Linked DNA regions of Homo sapiens: region 2 is linked to region 1. Evidence: fine-mapped expression QTL. A gene starts in region 1. The other region holds a variant in brackets. All regions are shown on one strand. Distances are from middle to middle. Region 1 holds the start of C9orf152 (chromosome 9 open reading frame 152). Region 2 overlaps TXN (thioredoxin).

The links.
Region 2: its variant is fine-mapped to the expression of C9orf152 in whole blood (GTEx, PIP 0.97). The same link has a PIP of 0.9 or more in monocytes, monocytes after LPS, monocytes after Pam3CSK4 and monocytes after R848.

The regions. Positions count from the first base shown.
Region 1 is chr9:110,202,133-110,213,394 of GRCh38, forward strand. C9orf152 (chromosome 9 open reading frame 152) reads right to left here and starts at 6,027. Exons shown (of 2, transcript NM_001012993.3): 1 at 5,255-6,027. The coding sequence starts at 5,447. RefSeq lists enhancers at 4,696-5,196, 5,197-5,697.
Region 2 is chr9:110,239,059-110,250,320 of GRCh38, forward strand. TXN (thioredoxin) reads right to left here. Exons shown (of 5, transcript NM_003329.4): 4 at 5,720-5,785; 5 at 4,752-5,161. The coding sequence ends at 5,099. Among named protein-coding and RNA genes, the nearest start is that of TXN, 12 kb to the right of the region's middle. The variant T/C (reference allele first, on the strand shown) is at 4,950.

The DNA of each region.
Region 1 (11,262 bases):
TACAGTGGTGCAATCTTGGCTCACTGCAACCTCCACCTCCTGGGTTCAAGCGATTCTCCTGCCTCAGCCTCCTGAGTAGCTGGGATTACAAGGCACCTGCCACCATGCCTGACTACTTTTTGTATTTTTAGTAGAGACATGATTTTCACCATGTTGGCCAGGCTGGTCTTGAACTCCTGACCTCAAGTGATCCGCCCGCCTCAGACTCCCAAAGTGTTGGGATTACAGGCGTGAGCCACTGCGCTCGGCTGTGTCCTGGGATTCTGATAGTGAGTTTACCACCCAAGGCAGAAGAGGGAGGAGTTGTGTTTTGAAGCAGCTCCCTTTAGAGAACCAATCATTATCCTTCTCCTAGTCCACAGGCACTGCTCTGGGAGGACATCTGCAGCATTTACGGCTCCTCAGAACTGGCTTTAGGGTGAAAGAGGCAGACCAATGTCTCTTTTCTTTCTTGGGGACTTTTTTTTAAACCACCTAGTGGAATATGACAGTTCATTGTTAACTCTTGGTGGCAGTGAGAGGTATTGGAATGACTGAAAGGCATTTTCCTTATAGAAAGCAGGTGTGTGACCAGCTTGGAGCTCCTCAGAGGTGTCACTTAGGTTCACTTATCTGTTCCGGCACCTGTTATCACAGGAGGCCCTGGAGGTGACAATGTGCAGAGCAAGAGTGGGGAGATGATGTTGGAAGAATAAAGTCAGAAAGAAGCCCCTGAGCTCCAATTCAGGGATCCCAAAGAAACAGAAGACCAGCTGCAGCCATCTCAGCCAACAATTACTCTCCTGTCAACACTAACTCTAGTGTGACTCAAGATTTGTTCCGGCTTTGTAACTGGTTAATTCCTTAGTATTATTTTCCAGCATGAAATGAAGAAAACACTTTTTTTTTTTTTTTTTTTTTGAGATGGAGTCTTGCTCTGTCACCCAGGCTGGAGTGCAATGGCGCGATCTTGGCTCACTGCAACCTCCGCCCTCTGCATCCCGGGTTCAAGCGATTCTCCTGCCTCAGCCTCCCGAGTAGCTGGGTCTATAGGTGCCAGCCACCACGCCCAGCTACTTTTTTTTGTATTTTTAGTAGAGACGGGGTTTCACTGTGTTAGCCAGGATGGTCTCGATTTCCTGACCTTGTGATCCGCCCGCCTCGGCCTCCCAAAGTGCTTGGATTACAGGCGTGAGCCACCGCGGCCAGCCAAAGGAAACTTTTATAAATATCCAACATGTTATGTACTTATTTGAGAACAAGGAAGGAGGGAGACACAATGGGAGAACCTAGAAACTGGTATCCTAGCATTAGTTTAGAAGGAAAGGACTGAAGGTGGACAGGCCTGTTCAGCTGTCAGTCCCAGCCTGTGGTTCAGAGGAAAGGAAAAAGAGTTAGGCTGGGAGATACACAGGGACCCCACCCCAGAGCAGCCTCTGCTGAGAATCACCATGAGCCTTCTGTGGCAGTACCCTGCACATCTTGGGATGGTGCCTGCCCTTCACTGTACAAGAGAAAGAGAATTAGGGTAATTGACTGAAGAGTACAGGGAAATTTCGTATCATGTTTTTTATCTGTTTTGTTTTGGTTTTGGTAAGTCAGGGACTGGAAGGAAATGTACTCGTTATCTATAATACCTTCTTCATTCTCCACCCTTGATTCACTTTGCCAGAAGATACAAGTTGGAGAAGGGGTATTTTGAGCCCCTCCTTGATTTCTCTCTTCAGTGGGGATGAAGGAAGCGGGTGGAGAGAAGAGCGAAGAGAGTGGTAGAGAGACTCAGGGAGGAAAGAAGAATCGAAATTCACCCTAACTGCCTGAGACCTTTGGTGGAACCTCTCTCATCAAGCCAGAGTCAGGAAGACATGAGGTCTGGTCCTGAGTTCACCACTGACTCACTAGGAGACCCTAGGCCTCCATTTCCTCATCTATAAATGGAGATCTTAAAAAGGGAGCTACCTTACAAGGCTGCCAGGAATGTTCAATGAAATGTAATATAAAACATCCAGCCCAGATATAAGTCCCGACCCTAATCCCTTTTTCTACATGAGGCGAGTCACACAGTGTCTGACTGTGACAAAAGCATATTCCTTTTGGACACCAATCACTGGGAGTAATTGGGGCTCCACAGACTTCTGAAAGTAGCTCAAGGTCCCCTGGGTACTTACGTTGCATCAGGGAAGGCACGCTGCTACTTGTAACTGCATTTCCAGAAGCTGGATCCATCGCATAATGCTAAGACAGGGTGAAGAAAGCTAATTTCGGAGCCCTTCCTTTCATTGATCAGCTCCTAGAATTTCTGAGCTTCTAAACGCAACCCAATGTCTTGAGACATTGACTTCTAGCTTTAGTAGGAGCCCAGTCTCAATGCTCACTCTCTCTTCCTGGGTCTTTTTGCTGCACTGGGCACTGAGGATCACGGTCCTCTAAAATCCCTCTACCAGCTTGGCTTCATGACATTAATTGCTCTTGATTTTCTTATACCACTTAAAATATGTTTAATTGTGGTAAAATACATAGAACATAAAATGTACCATCTTAACCATTTTTAAGTGCACAGTTTAGTAGTGTTCAGTACATTCACATTGTGGAACCAATCTCCAGAATTCTTCAGTTTCTCTGACACTCTATAAGCATTAAACAATAACGCCCCACTTCCCCATGCCCCAGCCTCTGGCAACCACCATTCTGCTTTCCTTCTGTCTCTTTAAATATGACTACTCTACATACCTCATGTAAATGGGATTATACAGTATTTGTCTTTTTGGGACTGACTGACTTCACTCAGCATAATGTCCTCAAGTTTTATCCATGTTGTAGTGTATGGCAGAATTTCTTTCCTTTTTATGGCTGAATGATATGCCTGTCCTCAAATTTTGACTGCTCTCTCCATCTTCCCTGGCTTCATTTCCTCCTCTTGTTCCTTAAATATTTGAGTATTCCAGAACTCTAATTTTCATCCCAGTTTCTTATCAATTTACACATGGATTTGCCACAGTTTTATCCATGCCCATGGCTTCAGCTACCATCTATAGATGAATAACCCCAAATCTAGCTCTCCAGCCCAAATGAGATCCAGGCTGGATGGAAGGTCTACAGGCAACTATCTCCAATGCAGTATATTCAAAAACAAGTTCATCTCTCTCTACAAAAAGCCTTTTTCTCCACAAAAAGCCTTTTTCTCCTGTATTCTCAAGGAAAGATACCACCATCTATCCTGTTGCTAAAGTATAGGGGACAATTAATTGCTCTTTTGCCTCCTTAGTGCCATTTTCACCTTATTTTTGTCACCTTACTCTGATTTCTCCCTGGATAATTACCTACTCCTTCACATTCAGTGCTAGTGTTTCAAGTGGCCTTCCTACTTAGATACATGTGACATACGTGATCTTGTCCTCAGCCAGTCAGTGCATAAGGCCTTGATGAGCTTTATACATATTAGTTCATTTTATTCCTACAATAACCCTATGATTTGGGTACTACAGTTATTCCCAATTGACAGGTGAGGAAACTGAGCCCCAGAAAATTTATGTAACTTGTTTAAAGCTGCATATTAAGTAAATGGCAGAGCTGGGACTCAAACTCAGGCTGTGCTCCAAGACCCAGTACATGACCACTCCATTACACAGTATGCTGCCTCTCACAGTTAGATAAAGAATGTGGAACTCAGCCAAGTATGGTGGTTCACGCCCAGCACTTTTGAAGGTCGAGGTGGGTGGATCACCTGAGGTCAGGAGTTCAAGAGCAGCCTGGCCAACATGGTGAAACCCCATCTCTACTAAAAAAAATACAAAAATTAACCGAGCATGGTGGCAGGTGCCTGTAATCCAGCTACTCAGGAGGCTGAGGCAGGGAGAATTGCCTGAACCCGGGAGGCAGAGGTTTCAGTGAGCCGAGATTGCACCCCACTGCACTCCAGCCTGGGCAACAGAGTGAGAATCTGTCTCAAAAAAAAAAAAATGTGGAACTGCAAACTGCTGAAAGTGCCCTGAATGACCCTGACCTAGCTGGGAGGTCAGAAGTCTTCTCGGAGAAAGCCACACCTGGGCACTCCTTGCATGAACCATAATTTAGCACCTAGTAATGATGGGAAAGGGGGTACCGAGTTACCAAGAGCAGGAGAAAGGACGAGCACAGGGTATAGTGAATTCTCTGGGGGCATGTTGAATTTGAGATGTCTTTGGATCATCCCCACTAAGCAATTAGATTTGTGAGTCTGAATTGCAGGTGTATTAAGCATTGTGTTTCCATTTGATAGGGATTTAAATTGATAAATGTTTGTTGAATAACTGAATGAATAAATACCCTCAAGGGTGGGATAGAGCTTTAGGAACCTTTCAGTTTATGCCCTGCAGAGATGGTGACTGTTTGGCTGTGCCAGTTCACTCCTGCCAGGAACGAGGATTCCATTGGTTGGCAACAGCCCAGGTAATGGGAGATGGGCTCCTTCAGCTCAGAGGTGCCACTTTTGTTCCCAAAAGGCAGCACACTTCCTGCCCTAGACAGAGAGGTCCCTCTGGCCCCTGATTCCTGCCCAGTCTGGCCTGGCAAAGGGCAGCCCAAAGAGTCTACTGAACTCTACAAATAACCACAGAATCCCACAGAGCCCAGCTTTGACCTTTCAGGGTATCTTCCCTTCTCCCTCAACCTGTTCCTCTGTTAGAGGAGGAAGGGCTGGGATTTGACATGCCCTTGCTTTCTGAGCCCTGTGCCTCTAACTCCCTCCTGGAATGAAATCTGAGTTCCTAAAGGGAGGAGGTTTCTCCCCATGAGGGGGTTTCTGTGTCCAATCACACCTCCCTGCCTGATGTTTGAGGCTGGATGAGCCTGGGATGCCTCATGGGTCTCTGAGCCCTAGGCGTCCTCTGGCCCAGACAGTTCCCAGGCTGTTGGGAACGCCATGTCTTCTACCTCCAGAGTGAATTTCTCTGGTTTGTAGGAGGTGCCTTAGTTAGACCCAGCCAGGAAGCAGAGCTCCTATCGCCATACCTGGGCTAGCAGGGGGGCCAAGCCTGGCTCACCAGGCTGACCAGTCTAGCAAGATTAGAACATCAGAGCAGAGGCCAGGAACAGTGCTGGCAGCCAGGTGCTTGGCTGAGGCCCCTGGCTCCCTTAGCAGGTGGGACAGCTGAGCAGAGCTGCCCTGAGCCCGCCTCCCCTGCTCTTCCCCACTGGGAGGGAGGGCTGGCAAAGCCCTGGCTCTGCCTCCCTGCAGCTCTGCCACTCAGGTCTCCCATGGTAAGTCTCTCCTTCCCCAGCACCTGTCCATTCCTACCTTTTGGAAGCACCAGGAGGTGGGCCTGGGTCCTCTGCTGCCTCTTCAAGCCTTCATACTGGGCTCGCAGGAACTGGATGCTGAGTGGGGGCCCTTTCCCAGGGGCCTGAGTCCTGGAGCCCTCAGCCATTAAGTGAGACCTAAGCTGCCAGAAGTGGGGCAGGGCTGGGCACGGGCAGGGCAACCCCTCCATCCGGATCCGGGAGAAAAGCAAACACAGCTGGGTGGGGCAGGACCTGGGGAGGGGAGAGAGAGGGAGGGGGCAGTGAGGGAGAAGGAGAAGTGACGGGCAAAAGGAGGGTGGAAAGAGGAGTGGGACTGAGGAAGGAGATAGAAAAATAAGGGGGAAGGAGAAAGATGAAGGGGAAGAGGAGGTAGGGATAGGGAGAAATGTGGGGGAGGAGAAAGGTGGGAGACAGTGGCAGTAAGAGGAGAAGGAAATGTCAGAGGAAAGAAGGGGCAGCGAAGGGGGAAAGACTGGAGGAAGGAGGTGATAGTGACAAGCGGGGATTAATGGGGCGAGAGAAGAAAGAGAGGGAGGAAGATGGAGACAGGCAGGAGGAGGCAGGGAAAGGAGTGATGGGGAGTGGGAGACCGAGAAGTAAGGGGAGGACTGGGGGAGCAAAGAGAAAGGCAAGCCCAGCTGCTCAGAGCCCTTCAGGGGGGTCAAGAAGGTGTCTTATTCCAGGTCCTTCCATTGCTTGATCCTAAAGTTTAGAATCCAATTCCCAGTGCCACGGTGAAGTCTCCCCTTTCCTGGCAGAGCTGGGACTGGGGCTGGGGAGTGCTAAGCTCGCGCTCTGCTCACACATTTTGGACTGGAACGTGGCCACTTTTCAGCAAACCTGCCGGTTGGGTTTGCAGTAGTTCAAAGAACACCCTCGGGAGCTTCACAAGGTCGGTGCCTCTGGATGTGTGCCCCGCGGCCACACCCTAAAGAAACCCAGTAGCAAAGATCTCCCCAAGATCTCCACTCAGACCCCAACACACACCCCAGGTGAAAATTCAGCCCTAAAGTCAGCCATGGGACAGAGCCCAGGGGAATCTTGGCCTCGGGCCAGCCCTACCCCTTGGACATTTGGTGCAGCCTCTGCCGTCTCAGCATTCTCCAACCAAGTGGTAAGTTAGGCATCCCCTCACTCTCTGCTTGCCAGCCTCAACATTTCCACATTGCTTTTGAATCCCAGACCCTCTCCCTCTTACACCAGCTTTGACCTAGCCTTGCTGCATTTGGTCAACTAAGTCCCTTTCTATCTTCTCCTATCACGGTGCTTACTGATTACCCAATTACCCAATATGTCTACAGAGGCAATGGAAACAGAGTAGAGCCTGAACCTACAAGACATTTTGGACATTAACCAGACAAGATCTAGTCATTTGATGTGGGGGAGCCGTGGAAGATGGAGAGCAAATCTTCACTGGGTAGTATATGTTAGTTTTGCTAGGGCTGCCATAACGAAATCCCACAAACTGGATGTCTTAAACAACAAACATTATTGTCTCAGAGTTCTGGAGGTTAGAAGTCCAAAGTCAAGGTGTGAGCAGGGTTGGTTTCTTCTTGGAGCTGTGTGAGAGTATCTGTTCCATGCCTCTCACCTTGCTTCTGATGGTTTGCTAGCAATCTCTGGTATTCTTTGGCTTGCAAAAACATTGCCTAATCTCTGCCTTTATCTTGACATGATGTTCTTCCTTTTTATTTTTTTATTTTATTTTTTTTTTGAGAGGGAGTCTCACTCTGTCGCCCAGGCTGGAGTGCAGTGGCGTAATCTCAGCTCACTGCAAGCTCTGCCTCCCGGGTTCGCATCATTCTCCTGCCTCAGCCTCCCGAGTAGCTGGGACTACAGGCACCCGCCACCGCGCCCAGCTAATTTTTTGTATTTTTCGTAGAGACAGGGTTTCACCGTGGTCTCGATCTCCTGACCTTGTGATCCGCCCGCCTTGGCCTCCCAAAGTGCTGGGATTACAGGCGTGAGCCACCACACCCGGCCTAATATGATGTTCTTCCTATGTGGGTGTCTCTGTGCCCAATTTTCCCCTTTTTATAAGTACAGCAATCACATTGGATTAGAGCTCAATCTGTCTCAAAAAAATACCGAGAGAGATAGCCAAAGCTTCCTCATACCTTTTTATCGGTAGATCACTCTATCATGAAGGCAAGAGCAACCCATCCATGCTGGACCAGCTGCACCTGCCATGAAATCATGGCAGTAGACATCATGGCAGTAGGCTGGCCACAATGGCTCACAACTGTAATCCCAGCACTTTGGGAGGCTGAGGTGGGTGTATTGATTGTGCCCTGGAGTTCAGGACCAGCCTGGGCAACATAGTGAAACTCTGTATCTACAAAAATTAGCCAGGCATGGTGGCACATGCCTGTAGTCCGAGCTACTCGGGTGGCTGAGGTGGGATGATCACTTGAACCCAGAAGCTCGAGGCTGAAATGAGCCATGATTGCACCACTGTACTTCAGCCTGGGTAACAGAGTGAGCTCCTGTCTCAGAAAGAAAAGAGAAGAGAAGAGAAGAGAAGAGAAGAGAAGAGAAGAGAAGAGAAGAGGAGGAGAGAAATAATGGCAGTAGAAATTTCTACTATATTTTCGCATTTACTTGTCAGCCTTCATCTTTTAGTATTAACAGTTTTTGTCTTTTTCTATATGGGTGCGTTTGTGGATATTTTGATGAGAAGTAAATTGAGGCTGTCTACTGCTGATTGAATGCCTTTTAGGAGCTTAAATTCCTTCTTTTAGTTCATATAGTTCCTCTTTCTTTTAAAACTCAAATCTTTAATCCATTTGAAATTTATTTTGGTGTTGTGTTAGGTATAAGGCAAGGATCTAGGGGTTTTTTCCTCCAAATAATTGACCAGTTGTTTCAATAGCACTTACTGAATAAACTTTCCTTTCCTTGGTCTGTGATAACAATAACAATAGTATAAGAAAAAACTGGCAACTCTATCTCATCCCAGGGAGTCTTCAGAAATAAATGAAAAAAGATGATCAAGCCTGGAGTTTGTTCTGGGTGGCTGCCACTAAATGGGTGACTTTCATTATCCAGGTATATCCTTCAGAGGAACTGGAAATAAGCTTCAAAGTTGTTCAGGGCTGGAGACGCTGGAGTAGGAATAAGATGTCTTGTGATTCTAGGGAATATTTTGTTTTTCTGTATATATGTAAACTGTATGGAACATGAAATGTCCCATTCTGGTTGAGAGATAAGACTGTGCTTAATGTAGCAGGTTAGTTCATTACCGGAACCAGCATCCCTACAGCCCTCCCTGGAGCTTCCAGTAAAATAACTTAGACCAGAGGCTCCAGGTCCACTCCTGTCCAGGGGATCCAGCTATTCTGTGAGACTTGAGTGGCAACAGGTATCACTCACAACTGGGGTACCACTCCAGAGAGAATGACTCAGACAATAACCCTGTCCATACAAAGACCAGTCATTGGTGGGTAGAGACTCAGAGACTTGAAGAAGGAATCCCTTAGGGAGCTGGCTTGAGAGCAGCAGGCTGGGTCAGCCCAGTATACAGTGGGGGCAGGACAGGAGTGGTGGATCCTGTTCTTGTGAAGAACTTCAGTTTGGAGTTCTTTCCACTGGAGACTCCAGGAAAACTTGAGTTACCCTGTTCTTTCACTTTTCCTCTCCCCTATAATAAGTTCGCTCTGAGATTATCCCATCCCTGAAGCCTAGTGATCTAGCCTTAGAGAATCAAGAGGGCAAGATTGCAAGGGATGGAGGCTTCCCTGTGCTCTCTTCTCTCTGGTTCCAATGAGGAGGGGACCTTGTCCTATGGAGTGGACTGTGATTTGCAGGTGTATGAATGACAGTGTCCACAGGAGAGCCAAGTATGACGAAGAAGGACTCAGGATGTCAAGAAGTGCTTCAGGGCAGACAGACTAAAAAATTCAAAGCTCTCAGCCTTAAGAGTAAGGGAGATTCCTCTCTGAAAAAAGAGAGGCTAGGCTAGACATATGAAAACAATAGTTATAACCATTGATCTAAAACTGCAGTGGGTCAGATATGTGCTAATCACTCTATGTAAATGATCAATTTTTTCATTATGGTAATATTTGTGTAAATGAAATTGACTATTTTAACAATTTTTCAGTGTACAGTTCAGTGGCATTGCATCCATTCACAGTGCCCTGCAACAATCACCATTATTTCCAGCGTATCCATCATCGCAAACAGAAACTCTGTACCCATTAAATAATGCTCCCCACTTCCCTACATCCCTGGCAACCTCTACTATACTTCCTGTCCCTATGACTTTAGTACCCAACCTAAGTGGAATCATACAATATTTGTAATATATTGGACTGGCTTATTTCACTTAACATGTTGTCAAGGCCCATTCATGTTGTAAACATTCATCAGAACTTCGTTCCTTTTTATGGCTGAATAATATTCCATTGTATGGACAGGCCACAGTTTGTTTACCCATTCATCTGTTGATGGAGATTTGGGTTGTTTCCACCTTTTGGCTATTGGGAATAGTGCTGCTATGAACATTGATATACAAGTGTGTGTTTGCATTCCTGCTGTGAATTCTTTTGGAAAAGCTGGACTATATAATAATTCTATGTTTAGCTTTTTTGAGGAACCTGGACAAAATTAAATTTAATTTCTCATGAGAACACTGTGAGAGAAGAAACATTACTATCCTTTCTCCTTCACCTTTTACACCCAAACCATCTCTAGGCCTGGGAGATACAAGCTCTAAAAGATACCTGAAATCCGGCCAGGTGCGGTGGCTCACACCAGTTATCCCAGCACTTTGGAAGGCCAAGGTGAGTGGATCATCTGAGTCAGGAGTTCAAGACCAGTCTGACCAACATGGTGAAACCCAGTCTCTACTAAAAATACAAAAAATTAGCCAGACGTGGTGGCAGGCACCTGTAATCCCAGCCACTGGGAGGCTGAGGCTGGAGAATCACTTGAACTAGGAGGAAGAAATTGCAAAAAAAAAAAAAAGATACCTGAAATCCATGTATTTCTTTCCACCTCCACTGTCATCCACCTAGCCTATGCTGTCCTCATTTCTTTTTCCAAGACTACTGCAACAGCCTCTTACCTGTCCCCTCCCTCCCACTTCCACACCTGTCCTCTCATCCATTGATCCTTTGACCTCACAGCAGTTAGTGTTCTCCAAAAGACACAAAGCAAATTGGATCTCATGGCTTCTCTCCCAGTTAAATCCTCCAGTGGCCTCCCAATACACTCAAACTCGCATTCAAATCCTTCTTATGGCCCAGGGGGTTGTGCCTGTCTTGGGTCTGTCTCACCTTTCCAGTCTCTGTGTCAACTTTCCCCTTGCTCTCTACTTTCTAGACAAGATTTCCTATAAGTGGGTTCCAGATATGCCTATGACTGAGACCCACAACTCCTGGGCCGGGTGTCTCCAGCCACAAACAGCTTCTGCATTTATTCCAGTGATCTATACAAATAGTGTCATTTTCTAGGTGTGCCATGATGTGAAAGAGGGGAGAAAAGCATTCTCACCGCTTTAGCCTTCTCTGAAGGAATTTCTTGAATTCCACCAATGTCTTTTCCTCCTTGGAGCTTTGGTATGTGCTGTTCTTTGTCTTCTAGAACACTCCTTTACTTACTTTCACCTCAACCGTATCTTCATTATATTTCCATCCTTGGCAGCAACCACATGTCCCCTAGCTAACTTGTAAACACCTTCAGTTCTCAGCTTTAAAAAGTGGTACAGTGTAAGGATTGAGAGCATGAACTATGAAGCTAGACTATGCGGGTTTGCGTCTTATCTTCCCTATTCTTAGCTACTCTCCCCTTGCTCTCTAGAGTCAAGTGTGCCTTTGGGTTAGTTAAGTGACTGGAGTCTTGCTCTGTCACCCAGCCTGGAGTGAAGTGGCGTGATCTCAGCTCACTGCAAGCTCAGCCTTCTGGGTTCAAACGATTCTCCTGCCTCAGCCTCCTCAATAGCTGGGACTACAGTTGCGTGGCACCACACCCGGCTAATTTTTGTATTTTTAGTAGAGATGG
Region 2 (11,262 bases), 37 kb after region 1:
CCCTCCCCTCCCCTCCCCTCCCCTTGCCTCCCCTTCCTTCCTTGTCTCTTCTCTTCTCTTCTTTTTGAGACAGAGTCTCACTCTGTCGCCTAGGCTGAAGTGCAGTGGTGCAATCTCGGTCTCGGCTCACTGCAACCTCCGCCTCCTGGGTTCAAGCAGTTCTTTTGCCTCAGCCTCCTGAGTAGCTGGGATTACAGGTGCCCACCACCAAGCCCGGCTAATTTTTGTATTTTTAGTAGAGACAGGGTTTCACCATGTTGGTCAGGCTGGTCTCGAACTCCTGACCTCAGGTGATCTCCCCGCCTTGGCCCCCTAAAGTGCTGGGATTACAGGTGTGAGCCACCACACCCAGCCAATATTTGCCTTATTTTAATGACTAGTTAGTCTATATTCTACGGAACTATAAATCCTATATTTACCTTCATTACTTTATGCATTGACAAGTAAAAAGTGCTCACTAATATTTCTAGATTTATTAATATAAGTAATCCACTTTGGGGACAATAGAATTTATGACATTGAATTGTGCTGTGCAGTTACTGAGATTTTTTTTATAAAGTATGATCTTTAGTTAACTCTAATATCTTTACTATTTTAAATAGGTAATAATATATTCAAGTTATAAAGCATCTACTCTAAACACTTGTTCCATAACAAAGCAACAAAGTTTAGCATCTGTGAATTTTTTGGAGGTTGGCAGTAAACAGCTATGAAACGATATGAATGAGAAGAAACACCATGATATTTATGTTCGTCTCTTAAACTGCTTTCGAATCAAGAAATAAAAAGCATCTGTTAACTACCTTCTGCAACAATTAGGATGTTTGCCATCTCATGCTAAGAGACTATCAATGAATTTCATTGTGTTGACCACAATCACTGCCAGAGATGGGTGATCAGCTGGTCACCCATCATCTCCTGGCTATATTGTATATCCCTTAAACTGCTGGTTCTCAACTTTGAATGCACATCAGATAGTGTCCAGGCAACACCCAAGCCCATTTACAGCAAAATCTCTGGGACTGGAATCCCAACATCACTTTTGTTTTTGGAAAGCTCCCTAGTTGATTCTAAGTGCTGCCAAAATTTAGACCCATGCCCTTAACCTGAACAAACCCTCCCTCCCCATCCCTTTCACAGTAACTGCTGGAAGTTTGCTTTGGATCAGGAACCGTTTCTGTATCTTTAATGTGTTCTTGGAACATCAACTCCTTCCTTAACAGAAATATCCTAAGGGCTCCCCCTCCCCTACACTTTACACTCCACATACCCAAGTCAGGAGGTGACTGGATTTTTTGCTTGCCTCCCCACCTAAGGCCCCTTCCAAACCACTTCTCCTTCTTGCAAAATCTCCTACTACTCTGAAACTCATTCATGAAGTTGTACCAACTTCCTACCTTCCTTACTGCTGCCATCTGCTATCAACCTCCTCACTCACTAAAGATGGTTCACCTCACAGACTTCTCTTTCCATCCCTATTCCCATTTTCTTTCCCTGAAACCCATGTATGTTCCTGGCCTCAAATCCTTGACCTGCTGAGTTCCAATCTTCCTCTACCCCACTTCACCTCCTTCTCATGGTCACCCTAGTCTTTGTCTTCTCTGGAAATTTGTTTCTCAAATCTGTTTTTTAAATCTCACTCTGCTTACCACCTCTCATCTTCTTAAAGTTTGCTTGCTCAGTCACTCCCACTGCCAGCCTTCTTTGACCTTGTCAAGACCTCTAATCCTTAGACACTCCTTTTTCTGTGGCTCACCAGCCTCTTCTTGGCTTCTCCTCTCTACTTCTCCAGCCTTGATTCTATACTGCATCAGTATAATCAATCCCTCAAAAGTACTGTCAGCTTCTCTGCATCCCCACTCACTACTGGACTCAACTACAAAGACCCAATCCTGCTCCGGCTTCAACTCTCCACCTTCAGTTGCCTGCACACACAGCAGGGCTCTGAGGTCCTAACAAACCTCATGCAGACACTCAACTACGCCCAGAAACCATGCTTTGCTTTGCCACTGTGAAGATAACAATTTCATACCTTCTCCTCAAAACTGCCTGCTTGGAAAACAGAAACTATCAGATGGAAATGCCATCTTCCCATCCCTAAATCGACAATGCTCTCTAACCTTGCGCTCACTTTCATCCCACTGGTTATGGTGGAGGAAAGACATAACCAACACCAATCTCTCCTATTGTGGTCTGAATCTATTCTTTTTTTTTTTTTTCTAACTTCTAGCTTTATTGAGGCATAATTGACAATAATTGCTTATATTTAAGGTGTACAATGTAATTATTTGATATATGAATGCACTGTGTAGTAATCACATTACTTAACATATCTATCACCACAGTTACCATTTGTGTGTGTGTGTGTGGAGGGTGGGGTGAGCACACTTAAGACCTACTCTTAGCAAATTTCAAGTGAACAATACGGTATTATTAACTATAGTAACCATGGCGCACATTAGCTCCCCAGAACTTATTCATTTTATAACTACAAGTTTGGGCCAGGCACAGTGGCTCATGCCTATAATCCCAGCACTTTGGGAGGCAGAGGTGGCCGGATTGCTTGACAGATATGAGAAGTGTGATTTCTGTTCCCTCCAATCTGGCTTCCTTCCCCATCACTCCATAGGAATTTTGTGTTGCAATCACCAACCTCCATTTTGTTTTCTCAACCTTACCTTTCTTAGCTCCAAGGGAATTTGGTAAATGATACTCCTTCCTTTTTGAAATGTTCTCCTCTGTTCTTCCAGGATAAAACCCTCTTCTGGTTTTTGTCTTTCCCCTCTGGCCACCCTTCAGTCTCCTTTGTTGGTTCCTATTCTACTTGATCTCCAAATATTGAGTCCTTCAGGCTATCTTGAGCCCTCTTCACTCTGGACTCTTCCTGGGTGATGTCATGTTTGTTTATAAGTGCCATCTACATGACAATGTCTTGCAAATTTCTATCCCAGTCCAGACCTGTCCTTGGAGCTCTCAACTAGGTACCCAACAGCCTGCACAGCACCTTCAGTGGGATGTGCACCTCAGAAGCACCCAACTCAGAAGGGCCAGAGACTGACTCCCTCACCACCACCCCTTTCTCCCTCCCATCCTCACCTCACTCATGACATCACATCATACCCCGACACCCAGGGCTTCTGCCAGAAACCTGAGATTCACTCCTGGGTCTTCCTCTCACAGGCCCTTAGGCTTTGTTCCATCTCTGTCACTTCCCCACTGTCCTCCTAGTCACAGCTATCATTATCTCTGATCTAGGTAATTGCAAAAGCCTAACTGGGGCCGGGCACAGTGGCTCACGCCTGTAATCCCAGCACTTTGGGAGGCTGAGGTGGGTGGATCACCTGAGGTCAGGAGTTCGAGACCATCTTGGTCAACATGGTGAAACCTCATCTCTACTAAAAATACAAAAATTAGCTGGGCATGGTGGCGGGTGCCTGTAATCCCAGCTACTCAGGAGGCTGAGGCAGGAGAATGGCTTGACCCTGGGAGGCGGAGGTTGCAGTGAGCTGAGATTGCGCCATTGCACTCCAGCCTGGCTGACAAGAGCGAAACTCCATCTCAAAAAACAAACAAAAAAGCCTAACTGGTTTTCCACTTTTTAGTTTCCGTTTTCTATACAGGTGCCAAAATAACTTGTTAACAAAGCATGTACCCTGACTTACCCTTCGATGGTTTCTCATCCGTTCTAGAACAAATAACGCCCTGGCTGACCTGGCCCTGCCACTCTATCGAGCTTTATTTCATGCTCCTCTGATGATTCTACAAGGTACCAAGCTCTTTCTTGACTCAAGCCTTTGTGTCTGTCATTCTCTCTGCTTGAAAGCTGATTCCCTGGCTCTCAGCAGGTTGGAGTACTTTTTATCCAACAGCTCTGTTTACAGTCACCTCAAAGAACCCAGGTCCAACCACCTGATGCACAGCTGGTTCCCCTATTCTTCTCATTACTGCGCCCAGTTTTTGGTTTTGCCTTGTAGAATATACCAGTCTATTATTCACCTGTTTGTCTCTGCTTCTAGAATGTAAGCTGTATGAGGATGAGGGTGTCTTAGTCACAGCTTTATCCCAAGCCTAGCATGATGCCTGGCACATAACAGGCATTCCATTAGTATTTTGAGAGATCATCTAAGTTTGGCATCCTAATTTCACATGAGGAAAGAAACTCAACTAAGGGCCCATCATTTTCCTGCTTACTCAGATTGTTGCACTGAGGGCAATGTAGTAGTTAAAGGCACATATTCTGGTACCAGACTTCTTTGGTTCAAATCCCAGCTCCTCCAATGACTAGTTGTGATGCTGGGGAAATTACCACCCTTTGTCTGTTTCCTCACAGGTAAATGGGGATTATAGTGTCTATATCTAATAGGATTGTTACAAAGATTAAGTGAATTAATAGAAAGATGATACCTGGCATATGATAATTCTGCTCTTCATTATTATGTAAACTCAAAAAGTTTCTTCAAACCCCCAACCCCTTACTGTGCTTAGAACACAAGAAACAATGTTCTTTGAATGATATAAGTAATAATTTCCCACAACTTTTACCACTCAAGACAGAACCTATGTCTGGCCTATACAACTAGACTTTCTCAGATACTTCGAGGAGAATCAAGATCCGATCCTCGTGGCAAAACAAACAAACAAAACGAACAAGTCCTTCATGAGTGGACATCAATTTTGGTCATGCTGATCTTTTGGAGAGCATAGAGGATTCACCTGCTAAAACAGAGAATGCTATTTTCTCTGTCAAAAGATAACAAATAACAACATACTACTTTATTACCTGCATTGCCCCCAACAAGAGATTTTTGTAGCAATACATTAAGGTAGCAATAATAATTTTTAAAATCTTAAAATAATCAGTGGCCTACAAGGTTACTAAAAAGTGATTGAGAATATAGGAAAATACATTAAATGACCATTTCACATTTATTTTGAAAGCTATTCAGACA[T/C]GAGACGGTTTTAAAAAGTGTTAGCATTAATGTTTTATTGTCACGCAGATGGCAACTGGGTTTATGTCTTCATATTTTATATTTTTGTAAATTAAAAAAATTACAAGTTTTAAATAGCCAATGGCTGGTTATATTTTCAGAAAACATGATTAGACTAATTCATTAATGGTGGCTTCAAGCTTTTCCTTATTGGCTCCAGAAAATTCACCCACCTGTTAAGAGAATATTGAATTGACATTAGACGTAGCACTGTAGCACTGTTTTATACATAAAATATGTATAAATATGTATTTATATATATACATATACATATGTATATATATACATATGTATAAATATGTATTCAGCATAGAATGAAGGAAGAATAGGGGTGGAGGGAAAAAGAAGTATAATCTTATTTAAAGTAAACTTCCCTGAATAACATACAGTTCATTTAAGTTATAAACAAAGAAAAAATATCAAGAGAAAAGTCAAAAGGCTCAAGTACAAATTTTCTTTTACACAATACTTAACAACAAATGAACTGCCCAAGTCTAAGAAATTCTATGTGCTTTATGATATAAATAGGACTAGTTCTAGGAAAGATTGATTTTCAGTTAGCTGTCACATTATGTACTTAAGCCAATGAATTTTGGCATATTTAAAAATTCTTAAAAGCAGAACTTGGTGATATGCCTCAATCTTTAAAGGGAACATCACTCCAGTGATTTATTCACTTATACTGGGTTTCCTATTGCCCAGTTAGAGTTTTAAAGGTCAGATGTACGTACCTTTTGTCCCTTCTTAAAAAACTGGAATGTTGGCATGCATTTGACTTCACACTCTGAAGCAACATCCTGGTAGGGAAAGTAGCAAAGGGAGAGGATTAAATACAAGACTGCGAGTACTGAGCTTTGACAGAAGTAATCCAAAACCAGAAACTTTTCCCTGTCATGTACCCCACATTTCCGCATGAGGACATTTTTCAGCATATGAAAATTAATATAATGAATATAATGGCATTACAAAAGCCAAACCGGTTATATTCTCAATGAAGAAGTTTTATTAATATTTACTTCCTTTGACGGGCACATTAACAGGCAGAATGTTCAGAATGTTACTAGCATCAGATACTCCAGCGATCCAATATGCTCTTTAATCCAATCAAATTTTCAACTATTTTAAGTATCATACAAAGAAGCAACAAAAAATTCTGCTACAATTGGACTCAGTATGATAATCTTAACTATTCCTCAGAACTAGTACCTCTTATTTCTTGCTCATAATTTTTCCAGTTTTATTATGAAGGCAGAGTACACAGAATGATTATATAAAGGCTAAAAAGTCTAAAAAAATAAAAATCAATTGTTCAAGAACAAAATAATAGTAATCTAAAGGAATAACCCCACACTGGGTTTACTGATTATTATTATTTTTGAGACAGGGTCTGGCTGTGTCACCCAGGCTGGATGGAATGCAGGGGCATAGTCTCAGCTCACTGCAATCTCCACTTCCCAGACTCAAGCCATCCTCCCTCCTCAGCCTCCCCAGTAGCTGGGACTACAGGCACACGCCACCACACCTGGCTAATTTTGTGTGTGTGTGTGTATATATATACACACACACACACACTATATATATATATATATATATATATATATATATATATTTTTTTTTTTTTTTTTTTATAGGGACAAGGTCTCTCCATGTTGCCCAGGCTGGTCTCAAACTCATGAGCTCAAGTGATCCACCTTCCTCGGGCTCCCAAAGTGCTAGGATTACAGGTGTGAGCCACCACACTCAGCCTCCTGCTTATTTTTAATTAAAAACTGATTTGTGAGGCCAAGGCCGGTGGGTCACCTGAGGTCAGGAGTTCGAGACTAGCCTGGCTAACACGGAGAAACCCCATCTCTACTAAAAATACAAAAATTAGCCAGGTGTGGTGGCACACATCTGTCATCCCAGCTACTCAGGAGGTTGAGACAGGACAATTGCTTGAACCTGGGAGGCGGAGGTTGCAGTGAGCTGAGATCATGCCACTGTATTCCAGCCTGGGCGACAGAATGAGACTATCTCGGGAGGAAAAATAAAAAGACTTTGTGAATTCTCAAACCTTGCTGCAGTATCAGAATTACCTGAGGGGTACTACAAGTTTCCCCATCAACCCCATCTTAAACCATTACAGTTAAAGTCGGGCTTCAGGTGACTCTGATGCTCTAACCTTTGAAAGCCATCCTACTAAGAAAATCGACAAATTCCTAACATCGCAAATTGGGCTAGTTGATCCGTATTTTCTCCTCTCCTAGAAGTGGCTGTTACCACAGCTAAAGATTTTTCTACAGCTCAAAGGTAATTGAAGTAACACACATTCCTCAACTGTGGAATGCTAAATGAGAACTCTTATAATACCCCATGCTCAACACATTGTTCATGCTATAAGAGGGCAAGGTTTGGAGGACAATACCACGAAACTGGTTTGGTTTGGAGCCCAATAGAGATTGAAAATGTCAGCCAGGCACTCAAAAGAGGACTGGGAAAGAAATATAGAACCACTCAGCACCTAAGCAGCAAAAGCTACACAGGACAGCAAGCGAGCAGGCAGGACTGTTGATAACCAAATCACGGAAACCAACGGAGAATTCTCAAGGGGAAGAAAGGCCAGCTACAAACACTATGACGACCTCTAGGATGGTGGGTGGCACTACTGTTGAGGAGTTCTTTCTAGGTAATCTTTACTTTTTCTTTTAATGCTGGACACCTGCTGAGCATGAAAGTACAGGTTCCAGTAAGAGGCACAAGGACAGTAATGGCTGGAATAAAAATGGTGAATGTTTATTGAATGCATACTATTGAAAACTCACTCCAAGTAAGGGTCAGAGGGAGGTTACCATTTATAAAATAAGTATCATAACCCTGTTGGCTGTCAGAGAAATAAGGTTGGTCTATCATTTTCAAAAGGGCTACTACTCATACTTTTCTATCAATCTATGGAGGCAAAGTTAAAGTTCCTCAGTTTGTCAGAGGGTCACTTCAAGGTTTTAAAAGACACTTTCAGGCCAGGCACGGTAGCTCATGCCTCTAATCCCAGCACTTTGGGAGGCCAAGACGGGTGGATCACTTGAGGTGAGGAGTTCGAGACCAGCCTGGCCAACATGGCAAAATGCTGTCTCTACTAAAAAGTTGAAATTTAGCCTGGTGTGGTAGCGGCTGCCTGTAGTCCCAGCTACTCAGGAGGCTGAGGCAGAAGAATCGCTTGAACCCGGGAGGTGGAGGTTGCAGTGAGCAGAGATGGTACCACTGCACTCCAGCCTGGGTGACAGAGTGAGACTCTGTCTCAAAAAAAAAAAAAAAAAAGATACATTCAGGGTGATCAGGGTGCACCAAGCAGACATGAAGGAGGAGCTCTGTCATACGGAAGTCCTCGAGTGCTTTGCACACCTATAGTAATGCACCATATAACATTTAGATCGACAACAGATTGCATATATGTGGTGGTCCCATAAGATTATAATGAAGTTGAAAAATTCCTCTCACCTAGTGATGGGTTAATGTCATAGCCCATCGCATTAGCTGGTGCAAACAAATCTGCGCTGCAATTACATACAAAGTATACCACTACAGACTGCTTTACCTGCGGAATAGCCATTCTTTTGTTCCTTTACTTTCTTAATAAACTTGCTTTCACTTAAAAAAGCATATCACTACAATTATGGACAGTATATACTACTTGATAATAAACACCCACGTTACTGGTTTTTGTATTTACTTTAATTTCATTATTAATTTAGAGTGTACTCCTACTTATTTTTTTAAAAAGACAGTTACTATACAACAGGCTCAGGCAGGCCCTTCAGGAAGCATTCCAGGAGAAGGCACTGTTATCATAGGAGATGAAAGGTCCATGCATGTTACTGTCCCTGAAGACCTTTCTGTGAGACAAGATGTGGGGATGGGAGACAGTGATACTGATGATCCTGACCCTGTGTTGGTCTAGGCTAATGTATGTGTTTGAATCTTAGTTTGTAACAAAAAGTTTAAAAAGTCTTTTTAAAAAAAGCTTATAGACTAAGGATATAAAGAAAATATTTTTGTAGAGCTGTACAATGCATTCGTGTTTTAAGCTAAGTGTTATTACAAGAGTTAAAGAGTTAAAAAAATAAAAAAACTATAAAGTAAAAAAGTTACAATAAATTTATTGCTGAAAAAAGAAATTTTAAAAATAAAATTTGTAAGCATACAGTGTTTATAACGTCTACAGGTTCTAGGCCTTCACATTCACTCACCACCCACTCACTGACTCGCCCAGAGCACCTCTCAGTCCTGCAAGTCCCGTTTATGGCAAGTACCTTATAAAGGCATACCATTTTTTAATCTTTCATATCATGTTTTCACCATACCTTTTCTATGTTTAGATACACAAATACTTACTGTTGTGTTATAACTGCCTACAGTATTCAGTACAGTAACATGCCTTACCTGTTTGTGGCCTAGGAGCAACAGGCTTTACCACATAGCCTAGGTGTACAGGAGGCTATGCCATCTAGGTTGTGTAAGTACACTCTATGTGTGCACAACAAAATTGCCTAACATTTCTCAGAAAGTATCCTCATCATTAAGTGATGCATGACTGTACTTCCTAAAGGCAGTAAGAAGACCTGTCCTCAGTACAGTATGGTGCATTGGTCTGCCTCAAGAGACTGACTTTACCTTCTGTGCTGCAGTGCCATTACCTGTTCAATGAGGGTGCTAATAAAAAATACTCGTATAGTTATCGTGAGGATTAAATGACATAGTGCATGCAAAGGGCTTATCATGGCATCTGGCACCTATTATTGCTTTCAAATAAAAATCAAGGCCGGGCGTGGTGGATAATCCCAGCACTTTGGGAGGCCGAGGTGGGTGGATCACCTGAAGTCAGGAGTTCGAGACCAGCCTGACCAACATGGTGAAACCCCGTCTCTACTGGGGTTTTAATTTTGTAAAAATACAAAATTAGCCAGGCATGGTGGTGCATGCCTGTAATCCCAGCTACCCAGGAGGCTGAGACAGAGGATTGCTTAAACCCGGGAGGCAGAGGTTGCAGTGAGCCGAGATCATGCCACTGCACTCCACCCCAGGTGACAGAGTGAACTCCATCTCAAAAAAAAAAAAAAAAAAAAAAAAAAAAAAAAAATCAAGTTGCTATCTGATAGGATCAGTGGCAGTTAGAATTTCTCTATTCCAGGTGCAATTTTCCCCTAGCTAAATTGACCTTAATAAGACTAAGTTTGATTAAAACAAGGGATAAGGATTTTTCACAAAAATGCAATTACACTCTTTTTAAAAAAAAAAAAACAACTCTGGGACACATCTAGAATAGTAACTTAACAACCATATCACATTCATCATTCATTCATTCCACACCTATACTACATGCAAGGCAGGTGTGCTAGGTGAAGGGGCAACCAACGTGAATTAAGACAGGGTCTCTGATCCTAGGAATCTACTGAGACTAATGGTAAAGGACAGACATAAAGATCATTATAATAATTGCCAAGATTCACTGGGTACTTAGGGCACACAAGGCGGTAAGTGGAGAAGGGGTGAAGCTCATGACAAGGAGTTAGTCAGGTAGGAAAGGAAAGGACAGGCCAGATGGAGAAGACAGCACAAGCCAAGGCAGGGGTTGCCCAAGGCACAGAGTCAAAAACTGGCTAAGAATACACAATCTGGGGTTGTTGCGCCCTCCCATGTTTAGAGAGCACTGCCATATGCCTGTTTTAAGTGACCCTTCACCCTTTATTGGATATTCCATGTTTGCTCAATGAATAAGCAACCTTGGGAGGTTGATGGGGCAGGTCTTAAGGCTCAAGGAAGAGGAGTGACTGGCCTAAGCAGATGCTAGTGAGCCAGGACTGGAAGCCAGGTCCAGCGCCTCTGTTGCCACACTGCACCCTTCCCCCATCGCCTTTCCTTCTCCACTAGGGCTAAGTGAAAATGCTCACATATCTGTAAAGGGCCCCGAAGTGATACCTCCTCAACCCGCTCTCCTAGGTCTGTGGTCATGTGCTAAGCACCCGATCTACACCCACAAGACAGAGCATCCTCCGATGGGTAGTGCTTAAGGTCAAGGGCTGGGAAGCCAGACCACTTCATTTTAAATCCTAGTTCAGCCACATACTCACTGAAACTTCATGAACAACCTCTGTGTTTCAGTTTTCTCATCTATAAAATGGGGATGATAACAGCACTCAGGATTAAATGAACTGATACTTAAAAACCACCCAGAACAGTGCCTGGTATATACCTAGTGCAAAACAAGTATTTGTTAAATACAACCAACCCTGGAATTTCT